Linked DNA regions of Homo sapiens: region 1 is linked to region 2. A link means that fine-mapping ties the variant in region 2 to the plasma level of a protein whose gene starts in the linked region. Region 2 holds a variant in brackets. A gene starts in the other region. All regions are shown on their reverse strands. Region 1 holds the start of KLRF1 (killer cell lectin like receptor F1). Region 2 overlaps SLFN12L (schlafen family member 12 like).

Evidence for each region. PIP is the posterior inclusion probability: the model's chance that the variant is causal. The UK Biobank Pharma Proteomics Project read protein levels with antibody pairs (Olink). The fine-mapping took linkage between variants from a reference panel, not from the people measured, so its PIPs are less certain.
Region 1: it holds the start of KLRF1, and the variant in region 2 is fine-mapped to the plasma level of the KLRF1 protein (UK Biobank, PIP 0.98).

What each region holds. Positions count from the first base shown.
Region 1 is chr12:9,824,937-9,830,329 of GRCh38, reverse strand. It overlaps KLRF1 (killer cell lectin like receptor F1), which reads right to left and starts at 2,849. Exons shown (of 6, transcript NM_016523.3): 1 at 2,701-2,849. The coding sequence starts at 2,785.
Region 2 is chr17:35,468,079-35,473,471 of GRCh38, reverse strand. It overlaps SLFN12L (schlafen family member 12 like), which reads left to right. Exons shown (of 5, transcript NM_001363830.2): 5 at 1-5,393. Among named protein-coding and RNA genes, the nearest start is that of SLFN13, 22 kb to the right of the region's middle. The variant C/A (reference allele first, on the strand shown) is at 3,120.

The sequences.
Region 1 (5,393 bases), not on the chromosome of region 2:
AATAAAAGAATCAATTGAAAAACTACCGTTAATTCCAGAAACAAAAAATAGTAGCTGCATTTATAAAAATAACATACTAAAATCAGTGCCCTGTATAATCCAGTAACCACTGTGAAAACATAGATGAAAGAAATTCATTACTCACGGATAGTTAACCAAAAAAAACAAACAAAAAGAAAACTAGACAGAAACTCGACAAGTGTCCCAACCCAATACAAACAAAACAAAACAAAACTAACCGAAAACTGAGTAACATTAATTTGATCATGTGCTTGGATAAGAAAACTATGTGTCAAAAATATAAATTCTCCCTAAGCTTAATGACAGACTAGGAAGTAATTTAGACGTAAAAGCTACATCGGGTTGTTTTATTTGTTGTTGTTTGTGGTGAGTGAGCCTGAATAATTTTTTATAAAGTTATCTGAAAGAACAAAAGAGTGAGAATAGCTAAGTAAACACTGGAAATATAGAAATACAAAATGGTAAATTTTATGAAGGGTGCTGGATTTATGCAAGGTGGATTTCTCTGAAAGTAATTTTTTAAACTTTTTAAATTCTTATTTATTTATTTGAGACAGGGTCTCGCTCTGTTGCTCAGGTTGGAGTGCAGTGGCACCATTAGAGCTCTTTGTAACCTTGAGCTCCTGGGCTCAGAGATCCTCCCTCCTGAGCACCCTGTGTAGCTAGGACTACAGGCATGTGCCACCATGACTGATTAATTTTTTTATCTCTATTGTTTGTAGAGATGGGGGTCTTGATTTGTTGCCCAGGCAGGTCTTGAACTCCTGGCCTCAAGCGATCATCCTGCCTCGGCCTTCCAAAGTGCTGGGATTAATGGCATGAGCCACCACACTTGGCCCCTCATTATATAAGTTTGACTGAAAATATGTAAATGTTTTATGCTACTATAAAGTAAGTTAAACAAAAATGAAAAAAAATCCATAAAAAATGAAGAAAAGGAATCTAACTAGGTATTGTTAGTGTCTTCACTATAGAGAGAGGAATTACTTAAAGTGATTTTAAAACATTTAACTGTGCATGCTCAATGGAATATATCTTAAGGATTTTTTAAAACCGCAAAACATTTTAATCTGTTTTAAGTAACTATTATTATAATATTATTTCTATAGTGATTCTGAAACTACTACATATGTATAGTGGGATAGAGCAATTATGTAATTTCTTACTATCACTGGCAACAAAGGTTTTTCAATATATGAGAAAAGATTTACAAATATGTCATCACAAAATTAAGTTAAATGAATGAACATCATAACCCCAAGGCTCACATTGTCAATCTAATTCACATAAAATACGTCTTACCTCAAGCTTTAATAAATATTAGCTAAAGGTACAAGACATAAATATTAGTATGTGTCACTTAAATATCTGGGAGCCGAAAATCTGCACATTTTTGCTTCAGAGAGACATTTATGAACAGAGTGTGGAAAAAAGTCTGCAGAGAAGTCACTACATGTTGTAGTCTTTCAGGTTTAATATCTCTAATTTCCAAAAATGAAATAAAAATTGAGTGTAGGAAGTAAAGACTTGAAAATATGGGAATCTAAAAATTCACATGGAAGAGGCAATAAATTTCTTATACATAGCACGTATGTAACTCTAAGATGAATCACTGATGGATGATACTTGTGGAAGGACTCAAGAGATAAGTAAAATTTTCATGGGTGAAGTTATTAAAAGAGAAATATTTAGAAAGCAACAGAACAGAACAGACAGTCTCTATAACTGTGATTATTTGTGTCTTTAATTTCTGCTTATCTCTTTTGCCAAATCACATTAAGGTGGCATGATGGAATTGCATTGTGTATGGAGGGTATGCTTGAAGTAGCAAATTAAAATGTTGATTGCTGGTGTATAAACTTTATTTTGAGTCAACTTGGTGAAAAGCATAAAGTTTTTGAGAAGTTGAATTAAAAATTAGTATTAAAGGCTGGGCGCGGTGGCTCATGCCTATAATCCCAACACTTTGGAAGACTCAGGTGGGTGGATCACCTGAGGTCAGGAGTTCAAGACCAGCCTGGCCAACATGGTAAAACCCCATCTCTACTAAAAACGCAAAAAATTAGCCAGGCATGGTGGCGGGCACCTATAATCTCAGCTACTCAGGAGGCTGAGGCAGGAGAATTGCTTGAACCTGGGAGGCAGAGGTTGCAGTGAGCCGAGATCATGCCATTGCACTCCAGCCTGGGCAACAACAGTGAAACTCCGTCTCAAAAAAAAAAAATAGCATTAAAACACCATATTCTATGAATGATAAGGAGGTGAATGGCAGCAAATATTCACTAATTTGAAATTATTAATTTTAATTGAGTATGCATATTTCCTCAGAGAATGTCCTTAAGAAATTATATCAGACAAAATATTACAAGTAAGTGTTAGTTCCACATTGATAAATGGGAGAGAGAGAGATTATCTCATAGTAAATTTGTAAGATTAAATGAAGGAACATAGATAAAACATTCTGTATAGTGCCGGAAACTGGTGTTTCTTAAATGGTAAGAGAGGTTGTTATTTTTAAATCATTATTAATATTGAAAGAGAGGACAGGTGAGAGAGATACAGAGACGGAGAAAGAAAAGCACCCAAATACTGAAACAGTCCAATAACACAATGGAACAGGATACGGGAAACTACCATGTTAATTCACACCAATTGAAAAAATGAAATTAAATTCCATACCTTTAAATGTAAGTTGAGATGTTTGGGCAGAACTCCTTTTCTTTGACTGTACATTCAATGTCATGTATCTTTCTTCATCTTGCATCTTCAATGTGAGTGAATGTGTGTGTATACAGGTATGTTTTGTTTTATTAAGTATAACATGAAATGAGGAAAGAATAATAAATCTGCTGCTAATCAGAGATGCTCCTCAAATTGTCCTTTCACAGTACATATGAGGGTTCACAGTTTCACTTATTTGTGAAAACCTCAGAGGAAATGTTTTCTTTTTAAAAGTTGCTTTCCCATGACATAGATAACACATAATTTCTCAACTGTCCACCACATATTGAATTGAATATTCTTTTGAGTGCTTTACAAATTTCTCTTAATTTACCCTTAAAGTCAAGGGAATGGAAATTATGCCCCTTTTTGAGGTGAGGTTAATAATATATAGCTGCCTTTTGTTATAGCCTAAATATTTATATCATTTGAATTAGCCTCCCTAACATATTGATATTTAATTTAATAATTTGCAATTGCCAAGCAATTAAATTCTTTATCCTAAAACAATATTGTTTATAAATCATGCTAATAATTTAACAGTATAATTTGATTTTTTTTAACTTTTAGGTTCAGGGCTACATGTGTAGGTTTGTTATATAGGTAAAATCATGTCACAGGGGTTTGTTGTACATATTATTTCATCACCCAGGTATTCAGACTAGTACTACATAGTTATGTTTTTCTGATCCTGCCCCTCCTCTCACCCTCCACCTTCAAGTAGGCTCCGGTGTCTGTCATTCTCCTCTATGTGTACATGTGTTCTCATCATTTAGATCCCAATTATTAGTGAGAACATGTGGTATTTGGTTTTCTGTTCCTCCATTAGTTTGTTAAGGGTAACGGCCTCTAGCTTCATCTATGTTCCTGCAATGGACATCATCTCATTCTTTTTTATAGCTGCATAGTATTCCTTTGTATATGTGTATCACATTTTCTTTATCCAGTCTACCATTGATGGGCATTTAGGTTGATTGCATGTCTTTGCTATTGTCAACAGTGCTGCCATGAACAGATGCATGCATGTGTCTTTATGATAGATTTATATTCCTTTGGGTATATACCAGTAATGGGATTGCTGGGTCAAATTTCTGGTTTTAGGTCTTTAAGGAATCACCATGCTATCTTTCATAATGGTTGAACTAATTTACACTCCCATCAAAGGTGTATAAGTGAACCCTTTTCTCCACTACCTCATCAGCATCTGTTATTTTTTGACTTTTTAATAATAGCCATTCGACTGGTATGAGATGGTATCTTACTGTGGTTTTAATTTGCATTTCCCTAATGATTAGTGCCTACTGGAGGATAGAGGGTGGGAAGAGGGAAAGGATCAGGAAAAATAACTAATGGGTACTAGGGTTAATACCTGGGTGAAGAAATAATCTTTACAGCAAACCCCCATTACACAAGTTTACCTATGTAACAAATTTGCACATGTACTCCCAAATTTAAAATAAAATTTTAAAAACACAATATACCCTTTTAAATAAGATAAACTATTAATTCAAGGAGAAAATATTTGACAAATTATCAGAAATATATTTGTTGCTTAATGACAAAAGTAAAAGGATAATACATTTTTGTGTTATTTTTGTTTATTTTTACTTGCTAAATTTTGTTCTTTAATTTATAATTACAATTTCTTTGGCCATTATTTGACACTCCAAATGGATAAGAAGTAAATTAAGATTGATAAATAAAACACGAAAAGTATCTGTTCATGTCCTTAGTCCACTTTTTAATGGGGTTGTTTATTTTTTGCTTGTTGATTGGTTTAAGTTTCTTACAGATGCTGGATATTAGACCTTTGTCAAATGCATAGTCTGCAAAAATTTTCTCCCATTCTGTAGATTATCTGTTCACTCTGTTGATAGTTTCTCTTGCTGTGCAGAAGCTCTTACAGTTAATTATTTTGTTTGTTTGTTTTGTTTTGTTTCACTTTTGTTGCAATTGCTTTTGGCATCTTTGTCATGAAATATTTGCCCATTCCTGTGTCCAGGATGGTAATTCCTAGGTTATCTTCCAGGGTTTTTTATATTTTGGGGTTTTAGACATAAGTATTTTATCCATCTTGAGTTGAGCTTTGTATATGGTATAAGGAAGGGGTCCACTTTCAATCTTCAGCATGTGGCTAGCCAGTTATCTCAGCACCATTTATTAAAAAGGGAATCCTTTTCCCATGGCTTGTTTTTGTCAGCTTTGCTGAAGATCAGATGGGTGTAGTTGTGCAGCACTATTTCTGGGCTTTCTGTCCAGTGGTCTATGTGTCTGCATTAGACCATTGTGTTCCAATGGTCTATGTGTCTGCTTTTTTTTTTTTTTTTACCAGTACCTTGTTATTTTGGATATTGTAGTACTGTAGTATAATTTGAAGTTGGGCAATGTGATGCCTCCAGTGTTGTTCTTTTTGCTTAGGATTGCCTTGGCTATTTGGGCTAATTTTTCTGTTCCAGATGAATTTTAAAATAGTTTTCTTCTAGTTCTGTGAAGAATGTCATTGGTAGTATGATAGGAATAGCATTAAATCTGTAAATTGCTTTGGGCAATATGACCATTTTAATGATATTTATTATTCTGATCCATGAGCATGGAATGTTTTTCATTTGTTTGTGTCATCTCTGATTTCTTTAAGCAATGTTTTGTAATTA
Region 2 (5,393 bases):
AACAAACACAAATCAATAAATGTAATTCATCACATAAACAGAAACAATGACAAAAACCATATGATTATCTCAATAGATGCAGAAAAAGACTCTGACAAAATTCAACATCCCTTTATGTTAAAAACTCTCAATAAACTGGGTATTGATGAAACATATCTCAAAACAATAAGAGCTATTCATGACAAACCCACAGCCAATATCATACTGAATGGGCAAAACCTGGAAGCATTCCCTTTGAAAATTGGCACAAGACAAGAATGCCCTCTCTCACCACTCCTATTCAACATAGTATTGGAAGTTCCGGCCAGGGCAATCAGGCAAGAGAAAGAAATAAAGGTATTCGAATAGGAAGAGAGGAAGTCAAATTGTCTTTATTTGTAGATGAGATGATTTTATATCTAGAAAATCCCATCATCTCAGCCTCCAAATTCCTTAAGCTGATAAGCAACTTCAGCAAAGTCTCAGGATACAAAATCAATGTGCAAAAGTCACAAGCATTCCATTACACCAACAATAGACAAGCAGAGAGCCAAATCATGAGTGAACTCACATTCACAATCGCTAAAAAGAGAATAAAATACCTAGAAATACAGCTAACAAGGGATGTGAAGGACCTCTTCAAGGAGAACTACAAACCACTGCTCAAGGAAACAAGAGAAGACACAAACAAATGGAAAAACATTCCATCCTCATAAACAGGAAGAATCAATATCATGAAAATGGCCATATTGCCCAAAGTAATTTATAGATTCAATGTTATTCCCATCAAACTACCATTGACATTCTTCACAGAATTTCATATGGAATCAAATCAGAATTAAATGAAATTAAATTTCATATGGAATCAAAGAAGACCTTGTATAGCTAAGATAATCCTAAACAAAAAGAACAAAGCTGGAGGCATTATGCTACCTGACTTCAAACTACACTACATGGCTACAGTAACCAAAACAGCATGGTACTGGCATAAAAAGAGACATATAGACCAATGGAACAGAACAGAGACCTCAGAAATAACACCACACATCTATAACCATCTGATCTTCTACAAACTTGACAAAAACAAGCAATGGGGAAAGGATCTTCTATTCAATAAATGGTGCTGGGAGAACTGGCTAGCCATATGCAGAAAACTGAAACTGGATCCCTTCCTTACACCTTATACAAAAATTAACCCAAGATGGACTAAAGACTCAAACTGAAAACTGAAACTGGATCCCTTCCTTACACTTTATACAAAAATTAACTCAAGATAGATTAAAGACTTAAATGCAAAACTCAAAACCATAAAAACTCTAGAAGAAAACCTAGGCAATACCATTCAGGACATAGGCATGGGCAAAGACTTCATGACAAAAACACCAAAAGCAATTGCAACGAAAGCCAAAGTTGACAAACGGGATCTAATTAAACTAAAGAGCTTCTGTACAGGGAAAGAAACCACCATCAGAGTGAACGGACAACCTACAGAATGGGAGAAAATTTTTGCAATCTACCCATCTGACAAAGGTCTAATACCCAGAATGTACAAGGAACTTAAACAAATTTACAAGGAAAAAACAACCCCATTGAAAAGTGGATAAAGGATATGAATAGACATTTCTCAAAAGAAGACATTTATACAGCCAACAAACGTATGAAAAAAAACTCAACATCACTTATCATTAGAGAAATGCAAATCAAAACCACAATGAGACACCATCTCACACAAGTCAAATGGTGATTATTGAAAAGTCAAGATAAAAGATTATTTAAAACTTTTAAATAATCTTTTATTAAAAGAATATTTAAAACTTTTAAATAATCTTTTATTAAAAGAAAGATTATTAAAAAGTCTCCACTGCACGGCGAGGCTGTGGAGAAATAGGAATGCTTTTACACTGTTGGTGGGAATGTAAATTAGTTCAACCATTGTGGAAGACAGTGTGGCGATTCCTCAAGGATCTAGAACCAGAAATACCATTTGACCCAGGAATCCCATTACTGGGTATATACCCAAAGGAATGTAAATCATTCTACTATAAAGATACATGCAGGCGTGGCGCGGTGGCTCATGCCTGTAATCCCAGCACTTTGGGAGGCTGAGGCGGGTGGATCACCTGAGGCCAGGAGTTTGAGACCAGCCTGGCCAACATGGTGAAACCCCATTTCTACTAAAAATACAAGAATTAGCTGGGAGTGGTGGTAGGCGTCTGTAATCCCAGCTACTTGGGAGGCTGAGACATGAAAATTGCTTGAACCCGGGAGGCAGAGGTTGCAGTGAGCCAAGATCACCCCATTGCACTCCAGCCTGGGTGACAAGAGCAAAACTCTGTCTCAGAAAAAAAAAAAAAAAGACACATGCACACATATGTTTATTGCCCCACTATTTACAATAGCAAAGGCATGGAACCAACCCAAATGCCCATCAGTGATAGACTGGATAAAGAAAATGTGGTACATATACACCATGGAATACTGTGCAGCCATAAAAAGGAATGAGATCATGACCTTTGCAGGGACATGGATGAAGCTGGAAGCCATCATCCTCAGCAAACTAACATGGGAACAGAAAATGAAACACTACATGTTCTCACTCATAAGTGGGAGCTGAACAATGAGAACACATGGACACAGGGAAAGGATTAACACACACCAGGGCCTGTTGTGGGGTGGGGAGAGTGAGGGGAGGGAACTCAGAGGATGGGTCAATAGGTGCAGCAAACCACCATGGCACATGTATACCTATGTAACAAACCTGCACATTCTGCACGTGTATCCCAGAGCTTAAAGTATAATAAAAATTAAAAAAAAAAAAAAGAACTTAAAACAGTGGGAGCATGTTCACACTCTTGGAGTCTTTCCAGCCCTGAACCTCAGGCAGCCTGTATCAGCTGCTGGTGATGGGTGACCTGGGCATGGGGAAGACCACCATCATCAAACAGTGAGTGCACCAGAACTCCTCCTGGCTGGCACCCTGAAGCCACCACTGTGTGAACTGTGCATTCAAGGTGCTACACTGGGACCCAGAGGCCTTGGCACACCTACAGCTGTGGAACATTGCAATGAGGAAAGATTGGGAAAATGACAAGAGCCTGTTATCTGGAACTTACAGGCGCATTTATTGTCTCCAGTATCAC[C/A]AGGCCAGCCCCATTTGAAGCAGAGCTAAAGTGGAAAAATGATTTGGACTAAACGTTAACACATGGCAGACCAATTTCTATGGTTCTGTTGGCCAAGAAATGTGACCATGGGAGGATGAACGCAGGAACAATAGCCTCAAGATGGGCCAGATCTACATGGAACATAGTTTTGCAGTAGGAAAATATAAACTTTGGTGAAACCTTCAGATGCCTGATAAAATATTATATGAAAATGTACTCTTGAAGTTTTGATTTATGGAGGTGACTGAGTGTCAACACAGATGGACTAGCGCCATTGAAAAAAGACTTTATTACTTATAGTTCCAAGAGAAGGGGACTTGCTCTGTCATGCAGGGTCATGTGGTAAAGCATCCAGTTGGTTAAGGAAAGAGGAGCAGAAGTGAGGGGAAAATCTAATTCGGAACCTTTATTATTAGGGTTTCTGTGGGAAAGGTCCAGCTGGGCAGGGGGAACAGCTTAGGACTCAATAGTTTGAATAATTCTGATGGGCTTTGGGGCCTAGGGACGGTCCCCAGTTGTCTGTTACATGGCCCTGGGTTTATGTAGGGTAGGGAAAATATTGGCTCGATGTGTGAGTAGCTTAGAGTATGAGCTCTGGGTCACAGCGGGGATGTAAAGAATGTTGGCCATTAGTTTGGCCCTGTGATTAATGGATGCCAAATAGACAAGTACAGAACCTAGGAAAACACAGTAAGACCCATTGCCCCTGGGCCTATTTGGCATCATCGTAAGAAACCTGGGGTGGTAATAGTGGACTTATTTAAAGGATGGGGTACAGTTGCCCTAAATAGCCTAGAAAATATTTTATTGTAAGAGTAAGATAGAAGAACAATGTGGAAGTATAAAGAGCCCTTGTAGGCTGGTCCATAACTAAGTTCTTCATTTGCATGTCATTAGTCAAGAAAGTAGATCTGAAATTTTTGGAGGTTTTTACTATTATCTTGGTGGAGTTTTAAAGTGGGTTAAAAGTTTGAAATACATATATATATATATTATATATATATTTATATATATAATATATATATATTTTATATATATATATTTTATATAAAACAGGTCCTGCAGTCAGGTTGTTGGGGGATAGGAACTAATACATTAATAATGCATGTGTAGACTAGCGTGTGTGTATAACCAAGGAGGAGTGGTCATGGTCAGAGACACAGGGCAGGAAGTCACGGGGGAAAGCTTGAGGGGGTAGTAGGGGTAGGCACTGGGGAGTTAGTGGTCCTCTTCCCAGTGGGTTGAGGGATTGACTCAGGAGGCAACAGCCTTCAGAGAAAGGCAATACTATCCATTAATTTTTGTTATCTTTTTAGACACAGGGTCTTGCCCTTGTCACCGAGGCTGGAGTGCAGTGGTGTGGTCATAGCTCATTACAGCCTTGACCTCCCGACATCAAGAGATTCTCCTGCCTCAGACTCTTGAGTAGCTGGGACTACAGGTGTACACCACCATGCCCAGCTAACTTTTATATGTTTTGTAGAGATGGGGTCTCCCCATGTTGCCCAGGCTGGTTTGAACTCCTGGGATTAAGCAGTCCTGCCTCAGCCTCCCAAAGTGCTGGAATTATAGGCATGAGTCACTGTGCTTGGCCCTCCATTAATTCTTAGAATGACGTAGGTAGTGGTAACTACTATTAAATTTTCCTTCAGGCATAGGAGTGCGGGGTGTATGTTTTGGCAGAGAGCAAGGAGTATGCCAGGATGATAGGCTAAGCAGACAGCACACTCAGAAACACAATAGAATCCCTGATATCAAAGGAAAAAAGGCCAAATGTTCGGTGTGCAGTTTGTGCCTGAGAAGAGGCAGTCCATGGGTGTCACTGGGGTGAAGGTTTTTGTGTTTAGGGTGACGCCATGTCTGGTGCAGGGGTAAATTCATCTCTGACGGTAAGCTGGATCGATGTCATCTGAGGCAGCATAATCTCCAGCAGTGAGTGCCTATCCAGGAAAATGTCATCTAGGATATGGGTCTTGAGTATTTCTTTTAAGTAAATACAGACTCAGGTTGATGTGGGTCTTAGCATTTGCCATGATTGATTAAAACAATGGCTTGTATGGAGGGTTGGTGCCTCCAGATGATAAAACAACAAAAGCACCCATACCAGCAGTAAGATCAGCAGGCTGAGCATGGCAGCTCATGCCTGTAATCCCAGCACTTTGAGAGGCCAAAGCAGGTGCATTGCTTGAGCTCAGGCATTCAAGACCAGCCTGGGCAACATGGTAAAACCCTGTCTCTACAAAAAACATAAAA